Linked DNA regions of Homo sapiens. The protein of the gene in region 1 purifies or fractionates together with the protein of each later gene. This does not show direct contact. Each region holds a gene or a part of one and is shown on either strand. Other genes may lie near its edges.

Region 1 (4,183 bases):
GAAAATAAAACTGGCAAAAAATAACCATGTGAAAAAACAATCCAGCTAACTAGTACTCTAAGAAATGCAAGTACAAAAGATGAGAAATAACCATTTCAAACTAAATTTTTTTTTTAAAAAAGTCTGTGTTGTCAAGTATATGGAAAATGGGCATTTCTCAGGGAAAACTAATACGTTTTCCTGGAAGATAATTTAGAAAACATTTAAAAAATATATTCCTTTTATACAGCCATAAATAATCATGTTTAAAAGAATATCTAATAAAATGGAAGAAAATTCACAAGATCGTGTTAAGTGAAGAAGGCAGAATACATCTTCGCAAGGCATTATTCCAATTATGCCAGACATGCCATGGATATACGTAGAGAAAACACCGGAGGCAACATACCAAAATATTAAATGTAATTGACTCTACGAGGTAAAACTGAGTTTTATGTTCCCCTATTTCCTATTTATGCAATAGATTTAAAAAGTATTTTTACGACTAATTATACAATTCAAAAATTGCCTGTGTTGAAAAGCATGAAAGTACATGAAATTGTACTACCCTGGAAACCCCAGGAAGTGTTTAGTTTGGAAAGCCAGGGCCACCTGCTAGTGGGTGAGTCATGGGCACAGGCTCGCACCTGCCACCGCAGACGCCACACAGGCTGCTGAGCCTTTCCAAGCGAAATGCCCCACGTGCGCCAACGGCCACCTCGGCCGTCGCCCCACGCTTGGCCCGCAGCCAGAGGAAGCCCAGCAACTTCTGCTCTTTCTTAATTTCTAGAAAAGAGTGAAGAGAGGCCTTTTCAAAGTTCGCAGGATCGGGCCTTTTTGTGCTCCACTTTGGAACAAATCGGAAGCTAGGGCCTTCCAGGTGCGCCACCGCCGTCCCGGGACCGCCGCGGCCGCAAGCGTCCGCACTGCGGCCGGGGTGCGCGGCCTGAGAAAGGCCCGGGCAACGACGCTCCGGGGGCTTGCCGGAGCCCTCTTTGAAGTCTCCCGACGGGCTCCCAGCCTCTCATAAGGCAGCTAAGGCCGAACACCCCGGTGACCATAGGCCAGCCACGCGGTCGCCCGGGGACGCGCGTGCTCCGCAGGGACAAAGGGTCGGGAAACTTGAGCTCCGGCCAGTCCCAGAGAAACCCGGGCTGGTGGTCGCCATGGCAACGGAGTCCGACCCTCCGAGGCCTGCCGCCCTGGCGCGGCAGTGGCTTGAGTGACCCGGCCCGCTCTTGGCGGGGGCGCCCGCGCCCCGGCCCCGGCAGTCCCTCCCCGCCCCCAGGCCGCGGCCGCGGGAGCCGGCGACTGACCCTCGGCAGCTCCTGTAGTCACGTGGCGCTGGGAACCCGGCGGGGGGAGGTTGGGGACGGGCCTGGCAGTTGTGAACTCGAACCTGCCGCTGTCGCCGCGGCGGGGCGGGGAGCGAGAGTGGGCCGCGGAGGCCGGCCTTCGGGCTCCATGGACGGGCGCCGCGTCCCTGCACAGCCCGCCGCAGAGGTACGGCCGGGGCAGGGGCGCGGGGCCACCGCGGGCCCGCGGGGGGCCGCTCCACCTGCGGGGCGCGTGACCGTGAGTGTGCGCGACCGTGTGTGAGTGCGCGGGGGGGGACGCTGCTGGATCTGCGGGGGTGGGGGAGCGCACCTGCGCACAGGCTCCGCGAGCTGCGCCGTGCGTGGGACCCGAAATGGCTCACTCGCAAGAACGGGACCCGTGTGCCCGGGAGCGTGGACGGAGGACACGCATCAGTACAAAAGGGCGGTGTGGGGCTTCTGCCACCCGCGGCCAGCCGCGATGCGGAAGGGGATTCTGACGGAGTCGTGGTCACACCAGCTGGCCCTGCGCAGCCCCATGGGAAATAGGCCTGGAATTCCTGTCGGGAGGAGGCTGGGGGAAGGGGAGCCAGCAGGGATTCCAGAGTTCCTGCCATAGGCCGGCCTTTGGCCATCAGGGAAAGCCCAGACTCTGGCCACAGAATGGAGAATTCGTTCCGTGACCTTACCAGGGAAGAAAGTGACCCCGAAAGACAGCAGTGTGCTTCCTTGTTGAAGGGGCACATTCATTTATTAATCCAATGTCCATTAAGGTCACTCTGCCAGGCAGGATGTGGGGCTTATGGCTGGTGCGTGTGGCTTTGTGGGGGGAGGGGTTGTGGCTGGTGAGGACACAAAGCTGACTGCCCTAGAGGAGCTCAGAGCCTCACTTCTGTTTTCTCTTCCCTCCCCACAGGTAAGGCTGGCCTCTCTGCAGTCAGAGGTCTGAGCTCTGCCATGGGGATAGGGGTGTCTTTATTACTGCAGTTTTCTCTAACACCTGGGGGCTACCGGAGTGTGGGCCGAAGCAGGCGCTGCAGCCGCGGAAGTATCCCCAGGAACATCCCCAAGAGGAGCTGGAAAAAGCCTCATCCCCAGCTCTGCAGTCTCCAGGGTAGAGTCTGGCCTTTGCTGTGCTCCCAAACCACGCCACAACAGGGGTGCACGGGCGTCCCCATCCCGGCGGAAGGAAATGGCCCTTTCTCATATCCTGGGGTCTTCCCTGTGCACAGTCTGACACTGGGAATGAGTGACCTTTGTGTTCCCTGAGAAGAGAGAGTGCGCTCTAGGGAATTTAGAAGGATGTGTCTGGAGCTTGTGAGCAGGCACAGAAGGGCCCTTAGGAGCCTAACTGCTTCCTTCCTCCTTCCGCGGAGGAGGCTCCTGTGCAGGAATCTGGGCTCCCCTGAGCTGTGGAAGAGCTGAACATGGGGCAGCCCCTGGCGAGGTTGGGGCAGGACCGGGCAGGGGACTGAGATTGCAGTCTCATCTTCCCTCCCCTTCTATTGCCCCAGTAATCTCCAGCACCCCGAGGGAGGCAGAGCCGGTGATCAGGCCCCGAGGGCAGCAGGCTGTGGGTGTTCCTTGGATTCAGGGAGAGCCTTCCTTCCTGCAATGTCCTAATTTGTGTGGGTGGAAGAGGGCAGGCGGGCAGAATGGGGGCACAGTCTGGGCAGGCGGTGGTCTGGCGTTAGACTGCCGGGAGTAGCACCCAGGGCTCTGCTCCTGTTCCCCGAGAAGGGCTGTTCTCACTTGTCCTCCAGCCTCCTACGGAGACTGCAGTTAGTGATGCTGAAAGTGCCTCCCCTGTGGGGCTAGGAATGAAAAGCTATAGACACCTTTTTCTCTGAGATCTTTGCAAACCCAGGCGCTTTAGAGGAAAGAACACTGGCCTGGGAGTTTAAAGACCTGTTCCCTAGTCTTGATTCTGCTGTTGGCTTACTGTGTCACCTTGGGCAGGTCTCGTCATCTTTGATGTCTCACAGTTGCTTCATCTGTTAAACAGGGAGCTCAGTGTCTGTTTGTCCAGCTTCTCAGAGTTGCTGTGCAGCTCGGATGTGGCATAGGAAACAGCAGACACAGGGAGAGGGCAGCATAAGGCACTGTAGGGAGCAGTGGCCACATTTTCTGGTGAGTCCTGTGGCAGGAATGTTTGTGCATTCAGCACTGGAGCATTTACTCCCTGTCTGACACTGGGGTAGCTGCCATGAGGGGGATTCTAGTATCAGAGTCCCTCCCTTCTGGAAGTTTCCAGGGCAACAAAGACATAAGACAAACATCCTTGAAATGTTATCTAAAAACCCAAGATTGAAATAATACATACCACACAAGGAAACAGGAGAGTAGTCTAGCTCCATGTCCGGGGCTCTAGGGGTTCATAGATGGCAGCTCCTGTCCGGGGCTGAGGTTGGGAGGGGAGAAACAGGGGCAGAGTGAGTTGGTCTCTGGAGTGACTGTGCTTTTCCACCCTCAGCAGAGGAAGAACCGATGCTGGAACGTCGTTGCAGGGGCCCCCTGGCCATGGGCCTGGCCCAGCCCCGACTCCTTTCTGGGCCCTCCCAGGAGTCACCCCAGACCCTGGGGAAGGAGTCCCGCGGGCTGAGGCAACAAGGCACGTCAGTGGCCCAGTCTGGTGCCCAAGCCCCAGGCAGGGCCCATCGCTGTGCCCACTGTCGAAGGCACTTCCCTGGCTGGGTGGCTCTGTGGCTTCACACCCGCCGGTGCCAGGCCCGGCTGCCCTTGCCCTGCCCTGAGTGTGGCCGTCGCTTTCGCCATGCCCCCTTCTTAGCACTGCACCGCCAGGTCCATGCTGCTGCCACCCCAGACCTGGGCTTTGCCTGCCACCTCTGTGGGCAGAGCTTCCGAGGCTGGGTGGCCCTGGTTCTGCA
Region 2 (2,303 bases), on another chromosome or scaffold:
AAATTTAGTAGCCTTAATAAACATTTATTAGCTCCTGAGTGAGTGGCTTGGCAGTTTGGGCTGTGTTCAGTGTGGTGGTTCTTATCTCATCTGGGCCCTCGTGTGGCTGAAGTGAGCTGGCAGATCAGCTGGGGACTGGCTGGTCTCAGATGGCCTCGCCCGCCTGTCAGGTGGTTGGCTGGGCAACTGGGCCACACGTTCCAGCATCTAGCAGGCTGACCCAGGATTCTAGACATCATGGCTGAGTTCCAAAAACCGCAAGAGAAGACAAGCCCAGTATGCGAGTGCTCTTGAGGATATTGCTATGACGTATCTTTTGGCCAAAGTAAGTCACATGGCTAAGCCCAAATTCTTCTTAACAGGAGGAGCTTCAAAATATGGCCATATTTAAAAAATCTACCTCAGGACTCATTTCACTTGCCAACTCAGAACTTTTAGTAGCAGCTGCCTGGAGTGCCTTTTGAGGATCTGCAGCAATTTTCAGACTGTTTGGAAATACTGACATGATAGTTTGGCAGTTTCTCTTATGAGCATGGAATTCAAGTGTGGGCACGTGAGCGTCAGGTATTTGCCATCCCTGGCCAGGTTGACCCGTAAGGTCATAACCTGCCCCATAGGATGTTATATGCAGTAGGCCTGTCTGACAAGACCACAGAAATAGAGAAGGCAAAGCAGAGCAAAAGATTCTGAGCCAGGCATCCTTGGTTTTCATCCCAACCAGATCATTGATTGATTGAGGTTTTAGGCAAATCAAAATCCCTCCACCAGTAGCCAGATTCTTCATAATAAACTTCCTCCATAACAGTAAACCATTTCCTGAACACCTGCTGTTAAAAAGCACATTTTACATTTACTTAATCTCCACAACCACCCTCAGTAGGTGTAGTAAGGACTTCTGGTTACAAGTTACAGAAACTGAATTCAGTCCTGCTTAGTGGGAGGAAGTTTATTGGCTCACAAATTGTAAAGTCCAGGGATCTTCAGACATGGGGACTTGGGTTCAAAAGCTGCCATCGAGAATCCGGTTAGCCAGGCATGGTGACACGTGCCTGTAGTCCCCGCTACTTGGGGGACTACAGTGGGAGATCATTTGCACCTAGGAGGTTAATGCTGCGGTGAGCCATGATCCTGCCGCTGCACTCCAGCCTGGGTGACAAAGCGAGACCCCAACTCAAGGGGAAAAAATCTGGTTTTCGGGCAGGTTCCAAGAAGTGGTAGAGCATGGCCATAGGGCCTGTGAGAATAGAGGGACAGAGGGGAGAATCCCCAAAAGGAGAGCAAGGCTTGGCTAACAAAAACAGGCATCCACTGTGTGGTTATGTCTATTCTATAGATTTTGTAGATGAGGTTTAAAAGCATGGCCCCAAGTAAAGGTGGCATCTCTATCCTATCCTCGCCTTTATCTAAACTCTGTGACCGATCAATAGCATATGATGGTGGTGGTGCTCTGCCAGTCTCCCAGTCCCAGACTGAAGCACTAGCAGCTTCCACTTATTATCTCTTGGGACTCTAGCTCTTGGGACCCAACCACCATGCTGTGAAGCAGCCCAGGCCACACAGAGAGGCCACGTGTACATGTTCAGCTGACAGCAGTATCAAATGTCAGACATGAGAGAGGAAGGCTTCAAGATGACTCCAGCCCAGCCACCGTCTGAGAACAAAGTAAGAACTGCCTCACTGATGCCATTCAAAGCCCAGCACCATGAGAGATAATAAAACGTTGTTTGAAGATGCTAACTTTTGGAGTGATTTGTTGTATCAGTAGATAACCAGGACACAGGCCCACAGAGGTTCAGTAGCTTGCTGTGCTTCTCAGGGGGCTAGGTTAAGAGTATAGGTTTTGTTGCTGGGCGCGGTGGCTCACGCCTGTAATCCCAACACTTTGGGAGGCCAAGGCGGGCAGATCACGAGGTCAGGAGACCGAGACCATCCTGGCTAACACGGCGAAACCCCGTCTCTACTAAAAATACAAAAAAATTAGCCGGGTGTGGTGGCGGGCGCTTGTAGTCCCAGCTACTTGGGAGGCTGAGGCAGGAGAATGGTGTGAAGCTGGGAGGTGGAGCTTGCAGTGAGCCAAGATCGCGCCACTGCACTCCAGCCTGGGCGACAGAGCAAGACTCCGTCTCTTGCTGACTCTTACCCATATGCCTGCATCTGTCTACCCTCTTTTCTATGTACTTGCTCCCTGGATGACTTCATCCGTGGCTTCAGACTCCACTCATGGCTCCATAATCTTCACCTCTAACTCATTTTCCTCCCAAGAACACCAGGGGAGTAGGTACAGATGCCCATCTAATAACTGT
Region 3 (3,566 bases), on another chromosome or scaffold:
GGTCCTAAGGCAACCTCAAGGAAGGAGTTACCTGTTTATCTGGGGAAAGATCTGCAGAATCAAGGAAGACTTCCCATAGCATTGTTTTAAAAGATGAAAACAAGGCTGGGTGTGGTGGCTCACACCTGTAATTGCAGCATTTTGGGAGGCTGGAGCAGGTGGATCACAAGGTCAAAAGATCAAGACCATCCTGGCCAATGGTGAAACCCCATCTCTACTAAAAATACAAAAATTAGCTGGGCATGATGGTGTGTGCCTGTAATCACAGCTTCTCAGGAGACTGAGACAGGAGAATCATTTGAACCAGGGAGTCAGAGGTTGCAGTGAGCTGAGATTGTGCCACTGCACTCCAGCCTGGTGACAGAGCAAGACCCCAGCTAAAACAAAAAAAAAAGAAAAATGAAAATAAATTTGTCATAATAGTGGATGGAAACATTTTAGATGTTAAGAAGACATTGTACACTAATAAAGGTGTCAGTAGTAATTTTGGAAATCGTTTGTAAGGTACTATTTTTGCAGAAAACAGGAGGCAGGAGAGACCCAGTGGGTCAAACAAGAGGATTTTGTTTAGGTGCACACCAGCTCAGCGGATTTGCATCAAAAAGCTGAGCCCTGAACAAAGACAGGGCTTGGCTTATATAGGCAAACTTATAGAAGCAGAACAAAGGCAGTTAATCATATAGTGACAGTTTTGCAACCACTGCATAGCTTGCGACCTTGCAGCTGCATTGAGGGAAAACAAGAATTTGCAAAATATATGCATTTGTAAAAATAGCTATGAATAAATGCTGAGGGGGAGGGGAGATGGTAAAGGAATTTGTTTTCTTAACCTTGCTCTGGGATGTCTGGAGCCCATACCTGTGGGCTCTGGCTTCTCAGACAGGGTCACCATGACCTTTCCTGGGCCTGCTTGTTACTATCCTTAGAGTCAGACTAGCTAAGTGCAGGAAAACTTGTTTCTCTTTAAAACTAAATTTCCTTTTCTTTACATTTACTGCTTCACTATTAGGAAGTGAACAACATACTGAGTTACCTTATATGTTTCTACTGTATTTTAAAGTTGTGTTTCTGGTGGTTTTGTTCATTTATGTTGGGTGGATGAATTTGTGAGTGAATCACATCAGGTGTCTCCCCAAGTGGTTTGTTGAAGTTTTGGAGAATTATTTCCTAAGTAACTATTTCATGAAAGACTAAACACTCAGTTTATGAAATAAAATAAAATGTTGTCTTCAATCTATTTTTATAAAGGCAATAGTTTTTAACTGTTCTAAGTGGTTCATTTTAACTGAATATATGGATTTCTCAACAGAACAAGACTTAAAGCTGACATCAGAGGAAGAGTCACAAAGGCTTAAAGTCAGTGAAAATAGCCAGCCAGAGGCATGGAAAATTTTAAGTTTAAATTTTTGATTTAATGTTGTTTTCTTTGCTTGAATAATATTAGATAGTCCAAATGAAATTACCTTTCAGACTAGGTTTTAAGAATCAATAGATTCTTTTTTTAAGAATTTTTTAATAGATTCTTAAAATTTATTTTAATAAATTCAGCAATCTCATTAACAGAAGAATTAATAAATTCTAACTTGACATTTGATATTTAGCTTAAAAACGTAACCACTATAAAATTTAAAATACTCTTATTTTATGGTATTCTTATTTAAAATATTCTTATCTGCCTTTTTGATTAGCTTATAGCTAATCTTTCCTTTTGGAATAGAGGCAAAAACATATTCCAGACCTTTGTTTGTTCTTTTATTTTTACAACACCCTAACATGATAAAGTACCATCAATTATTGGATTATATTATTAAGCAATAGAACTGTGAACAATGTAACACTGAAGGTCCCTGAGCTGGATTCATGGTTAAAGAATAATCACGGCCAGTGATTGAAAATCTGCAGTTTTATATTGTCAGTCACAGATACCAAGGTTAAAGACATATTCTGCCTTGTGGTCTCTCACTGACCTCAGCATTTCTGTTCAGGGAGGGAACCAGGTCATAAAAGCAACCCAACTGCCTATTACAAGAATCATATCTTGCAGAATGGGACATTTGGTGTTAGTGCACAAACACAATAACCTTCTACCTTATTTCAGTTGCAGAAAATCAGTACAGATTATTAAAAAATTTTTATCCACTGTAATTAGTACACCTTAGAATATATTAGAACTGGACTTAAGCAGATCATCTAGATACATAACACTATCATATTACAGCATATAATTTCAATTAAAATTTAAGAATTTGCATTTCTTCCTCTTTGGTGTTGATTTCAGCTCCTAATAATTTAAAGCGTGCCTACAATCCAATTAGGAATCTTTTTAAAAAGCACTTCAGTGCACTATAGGGGCTCACTAGTTAGGGTTTCATGAGATATACTCTTTTCAAGTGAGGAAGCCCTTGGAACACTACAAATCATCTGCTAATTCATTTTTGGTAGATTTAACACATAACAAATTAAGTTTAGTCCAAACAAATGGTGACAAAGTTAAGTTTGCTGGTTCATGTTTTTATTCTCCCTTTGTCTAAGGTGAATTATTTTCCCATGTTAGTCAGAAGCCAATGATGTGGCAGTAGCTAAACATAGATTAAAAAGTTAATTCTTAATTTTAATTATTTATTTATTTAATTATTTTAAGTTAAATTTTATTTTATTTTCTAATTTTTCATGTCCATACTTGATTACTTAAGAATAAAATTATTTTAACATGCATTCCAAAAGAGGAGACATACACGGAAATACAACAAGCAAATTAACCTTCTATTTTTGCATCTGCAGAAAATGTCTCAAGAACCAGAAATAAATAAGGACTGTGATAGAGAGGTATACCTTTATGTTCAAATGTTTCTGTGGAATTAGATTTTTATGTTATGCTGTTTAACAAAGTGTAGTAAGTGTACGCATACATGATCCTATCATGTAAGTAGCATAAATCACCAGTGAAAAATTTAATATTTAACTCAGAAAGAATTCTGTACATTGAGTTTTCAAGAGATACAAACCCTAGAGAGATTCTTTCATTATTATGGAACAATCCTGAATGGTGCCATAAAATGCTAGGTAATGCCTCTTTAGGAGATTTGGACCAATCCTTTTATCTTTCTTGGTTTTAGTCTGATTATCACTAGATAATGTGGCTAAAGAAGATAATTACTTATTCTTTGTAATTTCCAGCTGGAAAATTGTATAGCTATTGAATGTGAAATTTGGGGAGCATCTAATTTTCTGGAATTCCATGCTTGCACCTCAGCAGTTTCACTCTGCTCCTTGTGTTGTGGCAAACTTTGGTTTTCATGTTTCAGTGAGCACCATCATGTTTTTGATATCCAGGAACCAAATGAAAAAAGAACGATCAAAGGCAGTGGGAGAGGAGAATATCTTAGTGCAGAAAAGGGCCATCTTCCTTTCTATTCCTGAAGCCCCCCAGTGTCTCATCCTCTACATCTGAGTGTTTAATGTAAAATCTAGGTGGTAAAGACAGAAGACACATTTTGTGTCTATGTCGTTTTATTTTTGTGTTCCCACGAGTCAAATGGGGTAAATTCATATATAAGATTCTGAAG
Region 4 (3,566 bases), on another chromosome or scaffold:
ATGCTCAAGCAATTTACCTGTCCTCTCTGCATTCAAATGTACTCATTTATGGATCTAAAGTTTTTCTTTATTGCCTTATTTCTATTATCCTAACATCACTGATGCATCACTTATATGAACACTGTTAATTTCCTAAAAATATACTAAAAGGAATTTTACTTAACGTATGAAAATGTATTACCCAGTAATGACAAATAATAGCACTTTTCTATGAGTAATCTGAACCAAATTCCAAATGTTACAGTAAAGTTTCTTTCTGCCCCTAGATCCTTGGTTCTTAATCTTCTTTGTGATCAAGTCCCAAATCCTAGGAAAATTAGGGATTTTTTTTTTAAATAAAATGCTCATGTTAAAATGTTGCATAAAATTTCAAGCAATTCATGGTCTCCTAAAGCTCCACTGGACCAAGTCACCCTGTTCTTCACAGAATGTTTGCCATATAGATTCTGGCCTTTATGTTGTGAATTTGCTTTATGTTTTGACACAATGGAAGTATTCAGATATTACTAACAAAACTTTAATAAATGTCAAAACTGGCAAAACTGGGCATTTTACAGGGGGTCAGTATCTGTTAAAGTACACATACTCACAGAAAGACACACAAGAGCACAGCATAAATAAGCAAGAAATGGAAATATAATTGACAATATGTATTACCTAAGAAGCTCTGGATACAGATTCCAAAGAGATGGTACTTAAATCTTGATCTTTTTCAAAGTTCTGAGATGTAATTACCCAATTAATTTAGGTAAATAAGGACAACTCTGTTGGGTGGCTTTCTTAAAACTACCTTTTATTGGCATTCTGAAAATGAAAAACCTTATGAGGGAACTAGAAGAATTTACCTCACTGAATGTGAAATCTCTTTAAGGTCATCATTTTCAGGCCATCTTTGGTAATACCTTTTAATCCAAGACACTGATACTCACACTGACATAACTTTGTTCTAAAATCTGACAAACATTTATGAATTTGAGTAACTAAGACAAACACACCCCAGGTGTTCCTTTGCACTGCAAACAACCATTTGCTAGAATTGCAAAATGTTGATGAAAACTTCAAGTTGCAAAGAAAACTGTGGCAGTCATGTTTGAAATATTATTTTAAAATCTACCCTTCCAATGGAATCTTTACATACAAGACTTCAAATGAAACTTGGTTTGTTTAAAGTTGAAGGATGGTATTTAATACTCCATTTATATGCAAAATAAGGCAAGTGTGCCTTTAAAAAGACAGGCAACTCTTAGCAATGTGTATTAATAAACAAGCACAGAGAAATAAATACTATACTAGATTGCTGTTCTTTCTTCAGCGGAGTAGGAGAAATCACCTAGGCTCTAACTCTAAGAGGAAAGAGCAATAGGGAAGAGTATATATATATGGAAAAAAAGAAGAAAAATCAGGGTCAGCACACAGGTGAGCTAGGGAGCTCAGGTAAAATGTACTGCATGAAAAGTATTATACTTGGTGGCCCCCCCAAGAGAGAAGCCACAGCAGAAGCCAGCACATCCCATGTCCTATTGCGACATCTGTGGTTCCAATTATTCCAGCAGTGTAGTCTGGCTACTCAGGTCAAGAACAATGTGCTGCAAATACTACGTACTCAATATTATTTCACAAAATTGAAAATAATTTATACTGGAATTGGAAGAAAAGCATGGAAACTCCCCATATCCTGAATTTACTTGTGTTTTGTATCTATTTTTTTGTATACTCTATAGTTATAAGCTTTCAATGTGTATCTGTTGAATATATAATCTACTTACAGTTAATCAGGAGGCAATCAAATTATTTCCTAGTAGTTCTTACACAGTCTTAGTAGGCTGGAAGGGTTCTTACAGATATAAGGAAATTGGATCCTAATGATATTAGGTAACTTGCCTTAGGTTACACATAGTTATTGAGACAGTGAGACACAGACTAGTCAATGGACTAAAAATTCTGTATTCTTTATGTTACAATATTTTCTTATTTAAGGATATCACCAGTGTATAATCACTGCTATTATCATTTTCATCATCAGCTACATTTAATTTTTGCCACAACTCTGTAATGTAGGTATTAGTCCCATTGCATAGACAAAGGCACTTAAGTTTCAGAGAGACAGTGAACTGCCCAAGGTCACACAGCTTTTTTTAGTAATGAAAAAATCAGAATTTGAATCCAGTCTGTTAAGGAGAATATAAATGTAGATCATGCTGCTACTACTAATTTATTCATTGAAGAAATATTTGAGTACCTACTATGTGCCGGCACCATTCTAGAAGCTGGAAAAGCAGTAGTGATGAAAACAATGTCCCTGCTCTCTTGGAGCTTACATTGGGTTGAGGGGAAGGTGGTGGGAAAGAAAAGGAGAGACCAAAAAATAAAAACCAAATAACTATATCAGATAGTATTAAGAGCTATGAAGCAGGTAAGGAAGACAGAGAGAAAGACAGAGGAAGAAGGAAGATGCTGTTTTACAATGTGAAGACAAGGAAAGCCTCCCTGGTTAGGCAACATCTAGGTGGTGAAGAAGCAAGTTATGTGGATACGTGAGGGAAGACTGAGCCAAACTCAGACAAGTGCAGAAACCCTGAGCAAGATGTGAGTTTGCTCAAAGAGTGAGAAGGCCAAAGGGAGCAAAGTGAACAGGAGGAAAAATACAGGTCATGGCTGTGAAAAGACTGCAGGATCCAGATCATACAGAGCTCTGAATGGGTAGAAAGCAGAAAGACCAGTTAGCAACCTAGCACAGAAATGGAGCCTAGAAAAATCATGGCTTGGACTGGAATAGTCACAGTGGATGTCATAAGAATTGATCAGATTCTGCATGTATTTGGAAGGTAGAATGATAAAGGATTAAAAATATTTCAATACAGAGAACTAAACACAAAATTTGTCACTGTACAGTATCAAGCATTCTAAAGAATGAAATAGAGGCATAAGATAACATACTCTACTGATCAATGTATTTATTTCTTAGAAGGCAGAATGATATAATAAAACATTTCAGTATAAAGAAATCAATTATTAAAAATAAAATTTATCATTATATACTAACAAACATTCTAAAGAATGAAACAGAAACATAAAACAACTTACTTTACTGGACAATGTATTTATTTCTCGTTCAGCTTTATGCAATTTATTAATTAAAAAGGTATTTTGTTCACTGCTTGATTGTAGCTCTTTTTCCAAACGTTCTGCCCGTAAATTAGCTGATTGTTTTTCAGCCTTTCATACAAACAAAATAGTTTAAAATTCATCATTTTTCAAGTATTTCAAAATCAAATAAGCACTATTTAAAATACATTTATAATTATACTAAAATTATTCAAAACCTCAACTTAACATATACCAATGTAACAAAAATTTTCTCAAACTAATTGGCAGAATTCAAACGAAAGATAGTGTTCCAGGAAATATGCAACAAAGGCATCTAGACAAACAACATATGAATGACCATCAATAAAATAAAGTTTATACACTTCTCTCACGACAGAAAGTACCTAAGGCATTCATTTGATGTCTATTTACTCTTAACACTGACTTATTTCAAACATTTTGGAAGTTTCCAGTCTATA

The links.
Region 2: the proteins of REPIN1 (region 1) and RALY purify together in Homo sapiens (affinity purification with mass spectrometry; one large-scale study listed by BioGRID and IntAct). This does not show direct contact.
Region 3: the proteins of REPIN1 (region 1) and POTEB3 purify together in Homo sapiens (co-immunoprecipitation; one large-scale study listed by IntAct). This does not show direct contact.
Region 4: the proteins of REPIN1 (region 1) and CEP83 purify together in Homo sapiens (affinity purification with mass spectrometry; one large-scale study listed by BioGRID and IntAct). This does not show direct contact.

The regions. Positions count from the first base shown.
Region 1 is NC_000007.14:150,367,460-150,371,642, forward strand, and holds the start of REPIN1 (DNA-binding protein REPIN1), read left to right. Parts: upstream 1-1,362; 5' UTR 1,363-1,443; coding exon of another isoform or gene 1,444-1,482; exon of another isoform or gene 1,483-1,574; intron 1,575-1,630; exon of another isoform or gene 1,631-2,211; 5' UTR 2,212-2,252; coding exon 2,253-2,409; exon of another isoform or gene 2,410-3,768; coding exon 3,769-4,183. UniProt on the Homo sapiens protein: Sequence-specific double-stranded DNA-binding protein. Binds ATT-rich and T-rich DNA sequences and facilitates DNA bending.
Region 2 is NC_000020.11:34,083,148-34,085,450, forward strand, and holds the end of RALY (RNA-binding protein Raly), read left to right. Parts: 3' UTR 1-1,737; downstream 1,738-2,303. UniProt on the Homo sapiens protein: RNA-binding protein that acts as a transcriptional cofactor for cholesterol biosynthetic genes in the liver. Binds the lipid-responsive non-coding RNA LeXis and is required for LeXis-mediated effect on cholesterogenesis.
Region 3 is NC_000015.10:21,419,934-21,423,499, reverse strand, and holds part of POTEB3 (POTE ankyrin domain family member B3), read left to right. Parts: intron 1-1,309; coding exon 1,310-1,380; intron 1,381-2,781; coding exon 2,782-2,826; intron 2,827-3,566.
Region 4 is NC_000012.12:94,372,802-94,376,367, forward strand, and holds part of CEP83 (centrosomal protein of 83 kDa), read right to left. Parts: intron 3,217-3,566; coding exon 3,085-3,216; intron 1-3,084. UniProt on the Homo sapiens protein: Component of the distal appendage region of the centriole involved in the initiation of primary cilium assembly.